Linked DNA regions of Homo sapiens: region 2 is linked to region 1. Evidence: fine-mapped expression QTL. A gene starts in region 1. The other region holds a variant in brackets. All regions are shown on one strand. Distances are between the middles of the regions.

Region 1 (4,000 bases):
GGAGGCAGCTGAAGAGCCCACTCCCAGCCATGCCACGTGGCAGGTACCATCTTGACAGCCCCCACCCCCACCAGCCAGAACCTCAAAGGACTGGGAGGGGCTTCTCAAGCAAGCTCCAAATAACTGGTTTGGGATTCCTCAGGCAGCCCGCTAGGCCCGCAGCAGCTTAGCGCCTGCTCCTGGTGGTGACGTGGCAGGCAGGAGGCTGAACTATCTCCACCGGCCGGCAGAGGGGGGCTTCCAGCCTGGGAAGCAGGCCTGACTCAGGTCCCAGGGGGTGCCACATATTTGCCAGGGGACTCCAGGAGCCTTCTTGGCCTTAGTTCCCTTCCCATCCGCACATGAATCTCTGAAGGGAAATGCGCTACTGGGGAGAAGGGCAGCCCCACTGAACCCAGCAGCAGGAATGGGGGAAGGCAAGTTACTGCAAGCAGGCCAGCCTCCCACAGCCCAGCCCATCTTGCCACAGAGAAATGCCAGCCCTCAGGCCAAGGTTAGCTGAGTTACAGTCCCACAAAGAAAATACAAGATCACCTAGCCAGGGCTGTGCCCACAGCTAGCTGGACTGAGCAGGGTCTGGAAGGGAAGGGGAGGAGATGATGGGACCCCACCAGAGGGTCCCAAACACTTGAGAGGTCTAAAGTACCTGGAAACTGCCTCAGAGGGAGGTCAATGCCTGCCTTTTTCATTCTGAAAGAAAACAGAAGAGTGAAGAGGGCGGGAGCCGGCAAAGGAGAGATGGTGAGGAGGCCCCTGGCGCAGAGGGCACAACCAGTCCCCAATCTACAGGGACCTTGGAGATCGACCACCTCACTGTAAAATGGGAGAAACAAGGCCAGGGCAGGGGGTCACCCCAGGTCCCTCGGGATAAACAGGGGTCTGCCTTCCCAGCACAGGGGTCCTTCCTCACAGAAGCACAGAGCCCCTCCTGAGGGCTGCATGCGGTGTCCTGTTACACAGCCAGTACAAAAAAAAAATCTCTGCTGGGAGTCCCGGTGACAGAGGAGACAAAGGAGAGGACGGGAAGGGGGGATGGGTACATGAACCATCTGAAGACAGGAGGGTGTGGCCCCGGCCGGAATTCCGGAGAACCAAAGCCCCCTCATTTTCCTCAGGCCTCCATCCGGGCCGTACAGCCCAGAGGGACCAGCGGGAAACAAGGAAGAGGAGGGGCTGAGACTCTGGGCCAGTCTGGAAGTGCATTCATTCTCCTTCCTGCTCTTCAGCCACCTCAGGAATGTCTCTAAGCTGGGGGGCAGGGAACCCCAGCCTCTGGAAGTTAGACCCTGCAGTTTAAACCCTGCAGTTACTCCAAGAACCCTGTGGCAGTGGACAGAAGGAAAGACTCAAATCCTTCTAGTCAGCCCCTTAATCCCCAGAGCAGAGCAGACCCTGCTGACCCCCACTCTCTTTTTTCGGAGTGGTAGGGAGCCTCGCTGGCCAAGTCTTTCCTTTGGCTGCCATCATCTAGGCTGCAAGCTGCTGATCAGAAATTGAGCCACTGTCGCCCACTTCTACCAGAGCACACGGACCCCAGGAGTCGAGACGATTTCACCTCCTTTCCCACCACCGGAAGCTCAAATTCCCTCAGCAAGCCTGTGAGGAGGCTGGGCCACCAATCACCGCTGCCCCTGAGCCTCAACCCCAGAACGGAAGTGACCTGGAACTGCGAGGCCGGCCTATCCTCCCTACCCTTGCGGGAAGAGGCACCAGACCCATCTCCTTCCTCCTCTGTTTCTTTCCGCAGAGGCTCTGCTCTCTGCCCCCAGCCCCCTTTACACAGCACCTAGTCTCGTATCTGCCACCACCACCTTTTAGGGGTCCCTGCACTTTTTCCCAGTCCTCCGAGTGCACGGACTCCCAACCCGGCTCCGATCTCCGCCCTAGCCCTCAGCTGGCACCATCACTGGCTAGCCCTGGGCTCTCGATTCCAAACCCTCCAGCGGCCCCCAAAGTGCCGAGGACTCCAATTTGTAGGCTCTGGCTCGGCACCCAACGCTTCGCAGGGTCCCCTCGCCCCTCTTACTCCCTCGCGCACCCCCAGATTGCTCGGCGCTCCCCCGGGCCGCACGCACGCAGGCGTCTCCCGCCCCTCACCTGGGTCGGGCTGGGCTAGCGCCGGGACGTGACTCTCGCTCTCGAGCCGCGACACGATTCTACTCTTAGCCCGCTCCCCTGCTCCCGGGATCTATATATGGCAGTCCCCACCCCCTCCTGCCCGTCCCGAGAAACTTCTGGAAAGTTGGAAACGCTTCCGGAGGGCGCCCCAGCTCCGCCAAAAAAAGCCAAAGACCTCCCTCAAAACCTCCCCGGCCCCCGGCCCCTCCCTCTGCCGGCGCCTCCCGGCCCCTGGGTCCTACTGCCTCCCTCGGCGGCCCGGGCTGCGGGGCGCCGGGAGTCCCCACGGGGATCAGCGTGTCCTTCAGAGTGCGAGCTTCCTCCCACCCCCAGGCTCTCTGCATAAGCTAGCCCACTCCGAATCGCACGTCCTTTCAGGCGCCCCTTTCCCCGCAGGGGCTCTGCCCCAAGCAGAGCCATCTCCCCTTCTCCCCGCTCTCCCCCATTTTCAAGCTGAAACAATTGAGTCCTGTGCACCCCCTCCCTCTCAGGGGAGACGTTCAGGCTTCTGAAGGCAGTGCCCTTCTCCATACTTGTACATTCAAAAAACCTCAACCTCAGCGATGGCCAGAGGGAGAGGGAGCAGACCAGACCCGGTACCTGCCCGGCACCCGGAAAGTTCAAGTCGTGGAGTAATAGAGGCAGAGATGCCTGGGGAACTTCAGGTGGTCTGGCTGGGCTTGGAGGAGTGCACAGGAAGGAAAACCTGGCTCTCCACTGAGCAAGGTGCTGTGTGACCCTAAGCAGGTTACTTTCCCTTTCTGGGCCTCTGTTCCCTTGGCTGTGAAATGTGGTTCTAAGGCATCCCTTGCTTTTTTTCCCCCCTCTCTCCCTTCCTCAATCCTTGTCACCCCTGGCCCCCTCCCTATTGCATCCCCTCCCTCTTTGGGTCCCCTCCCACAGGCCTCAGGTCTCACTGTCAATTCCTACCCCACCCTCGCAAACTGATAGCTCCTTGACCTCCAAGTTAAGCTAGGGTATTCATTACTGTTCTAGGTGCTGAGGACACAGCTGAGAGCTGAACAAAGTCCTTGCCCTGTGCGATGTCCATCTGTGGGGTATGTACCTGTTAGTAGGGAATTCAGTGATTCAGTGAGGCAGATTATTTAGGAAACCCTAAATAATCTGGGCGACAGTGGCTCAATTTCTGATCAGCCGAGGCTCCCTACCCTCCGAAAAGTCCTCTTTAGTAGTTTAATGATAGCTATTGGATGGACGCAGTATGGAGAGGAAGGGACAGGGTAGGGACTCTTCATTCATTCAGTCATGAATGAATGCATTGAGTATCTTCTTTCTTCTAGGTGCTTGCCTGGATCCTGGGGAGCAAAAAAATCCCAGTACCCAGCAAATGAGTCAATCACCTGGGTCCCTGCCCTCTGTTAGTGGTTGTGGGGAAGCCTGGTGGTGGTGACAAACCTCTCTGTCTGGGTAGGCTTCTGCAGCTCAGAGTCTTTTGAGTACAAGGACTGTGGGAAATCTCAGATCCCAAAAGCTTCAGACTCTGTGATTCAGGGTCAAGGAATCAGAGATTACTTCCACTCAAAGCCCCCAAGGAGTCTTTGAATCCAGCTAAGGAATCTTAACATGTTAAAATCTCAGAGTCGAAGGATTCTGGAATAAATGTATTAAAGACTCTGAGCTGCAAGGCATCTCAGAGGTCAGGGGTTCCTGTCTGCAGCCCCAGGCAGAAGCCCTCTTCTCAGTATCCCAAAAAGGCAAGCACCGAGGCACCTCTAAGAAGAGAGAGCTTACCTCCTTCAGAGGCAGCCCCGCATTCTTTTTTAGGACAGGTCTGATTATTAACAAAAGCTTCCAGCCTTGGCATGGTGTCCATCTCTTTGGGGTGGCTGTCGTGGTTCTCATGTGCTTCCTCCTGCCTCAA
Region 2 (4,508 bases), 21 kb before region 1:
CCCCACCAAAGCTGGCTCCCAAGGAATACTGCTATCCCTTTCAAAGGAGCTCAGCTCAGTTCTTACAGGAAAATCATCAGAGGAAATACAGTATGGAGGACACCCAAATAGTCTAGTTTTCTAAGCAAGCCTTCCCCATCCAACTGGCCCCAAGCCTGCCTCCTCACCCCGTTCCCAACAGCACTAGGGTTTTGTCTATACACACACAAACACACACACACACACACACAGAGAAAGAGAGAGAGAGACGTTTCTTCACAGTGAGGTTGGCTTTTTTTGGCCCAACACAAAAGTAGCCCTCAGAGCTTGCTGCCATATGAGCTCCAATAGTCAGAAACCTGAAGATAAGACAAGGCCACATTGAGGCTAAAGAATTGCGTGTGAAGGTCGGGCTCGATGGCTCACGGCTGTAATCCCAGGACTTTGGGAGGCCGAGGTGGGTGGATTATTTGAGGTCAGGAGTTCAAGAGCAGCCTGACCAACATGGTGAAACCCTGTCTCTACTAAATATACCAAAATTAGCTGGGTGTAGTGGCAGGCACCTGTAATCCCAGCTACTTGGGAGGCTAAGGCACGAGAATCGCTTGAACCTGGGAGGCAGAGATTGCAGTGAGCTGAGATCTAGCCACTGCACTCCAGCCCGGGCGATAGAGCGAGACTCTGTCTCAAAAAAAAAAATCGCATGTGGACACCTTCCTCCTCCTCCCAGTCCTTCCTCTGACCCACACACCAGGTCCCATGACACACACGTTTCCACAGGCCAAGCGAACCGTGGCGCCATCTCTGAGAAGCAGAACAAGGTTTCCCTGAGGGCCTCCGAGACACCCGGGGGCAGATGTCCAGGCCACTGGCTACCAAGGCTTGACCTCTGAAGAGACGTCTGGAAACAGGGCCTGGTAGTCAGCTGCCCTGGGGCTGGGGGGAGGATGGTCACAAGCCCCACATGAAGGACGCTGCGCTCCCTCAGAGAGTGTCAGAATGGAAAGAGATGTGGGTCCTGTTCCAAGCGTTGCGGACTTAAGAGGTCAGAGAGAATCGCCCAGAAAAAGTTCAGAGGGGCTGGCCCGGAGCTGTAAGGAGGAACCAGGGAACTGTGGTGCCCGGAGTGATTCAATCAGGAGACAGTGAGGCCGGGTCGAAAGCTGGGAGGGCCGGCGCAGATGAGGACTGAGGGGTGGCCGCTAGATCTGGCAGTTTCTGCTATGAGCCCAGAGCCAGCCCCTCAACATCTTCATTTGCAAGCCGGTCCTGACGCACAGAGCAGCGCCTCTGAGCTGCAGGCCTTCCCAGCTCAGTCCAGTCCAGCCCTCCACTACCCAGAAAGAAGGCCCAGTGCGGGAGGAGGGGCTCTGGGTCCCCATCTTGGGGTGGGGCAGGGAGGGCGGGGGCGCACCCGACTCTCCTGGCCCTTCTTACAAGCAGGCTTCACTCGAGGCCTAGCTCCTCCCTGCGGCAGCCACTTCCCAGTCTCCCGCGGCGTCCCCTTCCCCACCTCTCCCTCCTCCCTCCTCTCCTTCTTCCTCCCAGCTGCGGGAACTCACAAAGCAGGGGCGACCGCAACCCCGCAGTCCGCGGGCTCCCGCGCCCCTGCTGCAGCCGCCCGGGGAGGGGAGAGGACGGCCCCGCGGCGCCGCAGAAAGGGCGCCCCTACGCCGCGAGGGGCAGGGAGTCGGGGGGTCTCTGGAATGGGAGGCTCCCCACCCGGCCCAGAGGCAAAGGCGACCCGCTGAAACTGGATGGGCCGGCGGCGGAACTCCGACCCGAGAGTCCCACTCCGAAGATGCCCAGGCTCGGGAGGGCGTCTCCGCCCACAGAGCCCCGCTACCAGGGCTCTCGGCTCGGAAACAGCAGCCCCCGTCCCCGCGCACTCGCACAGCCCCCCGCCTGCAGGCTCATCTCCGGCCCCGCCCCGGGCTCCGGGCTCCGCCGCCCGTGCAGCCTGGCCCCGCGAGACCTCGGGACGCGGGATCGGGCCGGTGGGAAGGATAGTGCCCTGGCGAGGGTGGGCGAAAGAGGCCCCGGTATCTGCGCTCTGCCTACCCGCTTTGGGCCGCTAGAAGGCCTGGCTGGGAGACCCTTTCCGGGAGCTGGGCCGAGGCCTCTCTGGAGTCCCCGGTGGCTGGTCTGGGGAAAGGCCGCGATGTTAGTCCTCACACAATGGACCCCACCCGTGATACCTGCCGACGCCCCACACGGCCTAGGCACCTTGTGCCATATTGGGGGAGCGGGGAGACGGTCTATGTGGACAAGGGACAGGAGCCAACTCGGACTGGAGCGACACTTTCGGGAGTCTGTGCCGCTGAGTGGATGGATGGTCTAGAGGAAGTGGGTGGGAATGCACTCGGGTTGACCCAGTTCTCAGCCAGAAACCGGGAAATCCTTTTCAGTACCAGTCTCCGACCCTCAGCTTCCAAACTATCAGTAAGA[C/G]CTGCCTGGCCTTCCTGCTAAATAGCAAATTTGCCCACTTTTCACTATCTCTATGGCCACCCCCTCTTACCTCACCCATCTCACAATTTGTAATTCAGTCTATGCATCACAGCATGGCACTCAGGTGTAAGAAATGCCACGTCTTTATTTTGGTAAATCTAATTAAATAGACTGGGAGCCCCCTTCTCTCGTTGCCACGGTTGACAGGAAATCTGATATTAGTCATTTTCCTGGAGCCTCATCCTGTCTTTGGGGCTTATCACAATTCCAGGAGGTTCAGGCCATCCTGAGAAGAATCACTATGGCTTCCCTGAGCCCAAGCCGGGGGGCTGGCAGCCCCTCTCCCTCTCCCTAGGGCTTGGCTGGGGACCTCCCAAAGCCTGCCCAGGTTGTGGTATTTCTGCCCAGTTTGCCCAGGCATTCCTATAGCTTCCACATCTGAGCCCATCCCTCAGAGGCCCTGCAACCCAGCCCGCAGGCGCGTGGCCCTTTCTGCACACCTTCATTCCCGGAGGGAAGCCACTCCATCCCTCATCCATCAAAGCACCTGCACTTTCACTCCCTCTCCACCTTGGGCCATCAGTTCAACATCCTCTGCTGGGTGTGGTGGTGCATGCCTGTAGTTCCAGCTATTTCGGAGGCTGAGGCTTGAACCCAGGAGCTCAAGGCTGCAGTGAGCTCTGATCATTCTACTGTGCTCAAGAGCCCATCTCTTGAAGTGGGGGGAAAAGGGGAAAAATCCTCTACGGCGTTTATTCTGGTTCTGGGTGGGCCAGGGCTTCACTGTTTTACATTCCCACCCACAGTGTAGGAGGGTTCCAGTTTCTCCACATCCTTACCAACACTTGTTATTGTCCATCTTTTTCATGTAGCAGTAATTTCTTTGGCTTGTTCCAGAATCTTACATTTTTTTCTTACATAAAAATTGGTATCTAATAAATATGAGTAGATCTCTATTGTTGTGTGGATTAATGGGAATCCAGGAAACAGCTTGTTTTGGCAGGAGGATGGACTCAATTTGGTGTCCAGACTTCTGGACATGGTGGTCTGAGACTGGGAAAAGGGTCTGAGCTGAAGGCGGAGATGCAGACCTCATTGAAATGTGAGCCTCGCCAACCCACAGAAGGTAAAAAGGCTATGAGAGAGGGTGAGTTTACCCAGCAGGAGTGTGGAAAGCGAGAGACGGATGGGGTCAGGTCAGAGCGCTGGGAAACACCCACATTCAGGGGACAGGCAAAAGAAGGAGCCCCCAAGTGGAGGCTGCCCTAAAGCAGCAGAGGAGTCAGAAGAAAACTAGAAAGGAATGTCACCTTGGGGAAGACATCAAGGATGAAGAGTTAACAGGGTTAGAGACCATAACGGCTTCCCTGCAATATGGATTTAGAATCTGTTGAACAAAATGGGCAAAATGTCGTTACATATTGAAGTTTTGTGATGGGTACTATTATTTATTTATTTTGAGATGGAGTCTCACTCTGTCGGCCAGGCTGGAGTGTGGTAGTGAAATCTCCGCTCACTGCAACCTCCGCTTCCCAGGTTCAAGTGATTCTCCTGTCTCAGCCTCCCGAGTAGCTGGGACTACAGGCGCACACCACCACGCCTAGCTAATTTTTGTATTTTTAGCAGAAACAGGATTTCACCATGTTGGTCAGGCTGGTCTTGAACTCCTGACCTCAGGATCTGCCCGCCTCAGCCTCCCAAAGTGCTGGGATTACAGGCGTGAGCCACCGTGCCCAGCTATGTGTACTATTATTTAATTGTCATGTATGTTGGAATTTTTTTCATAGGCGCGAAATTAGTTTTTTTTGTTGTTGTTGTTGTTTTGAGATGGAGTCTCACTCTGTTGCCAGGCTGGAGTGCAGTGGTGTGATCTCGGCTCACTGCAACCTCCGCCCCCCAGGTTCAAGTGATTTTCCTGCCTCAGCCTCCCGAGTAGCTGGGACTACAGGCGCATGCCACCATGCCCAGCTAATTTTTTGTATTTTTAGTAGAGATGGGGTTTCACCATGTTGGCCAGGATGGTCTCGATCTCTTGACCTCGCGATCTGCCCGCCTCGGCTTCCCAAAGTGCTGGGATTACA

The links.
Region 2: its variant is fine-mapped to the expression of SERPINH1 in monocytes (Schmiedel 2018, PIP 0.95).

The regions. Positions count from the first base shown.
Region 1 is chr11:75,560,417-75,564,416 of GRCh38, reverse strand. SERPINH1 (serpin family H member 1) reads right to left here and starts at 2,164. Exons shown (of 5, transcript NM_001235.5): 1 at 2,098-2,164. RefSeq lists enhancers at 865-1,403, 1,404-1,944, 1,945-2,484 and silencers at 2,109-2,158, 2,169-2,428.
Region 2 is chr11:75,580,814-75,585,321 of GRCh38, reverse strand. MAP6-AS1 (MAP6 antisense RNA 1) reads right to left here and starts at 2,126. Exons shown (of 2, transcript NR_145823.1): 1 at 2,041-2,126. RefSeq lists an enhancer at 513-1,092 and silencers at 1,839-1,988, 1,999-2,108. The variant C/G (reference allele first, on the strand shown) is at 2,428.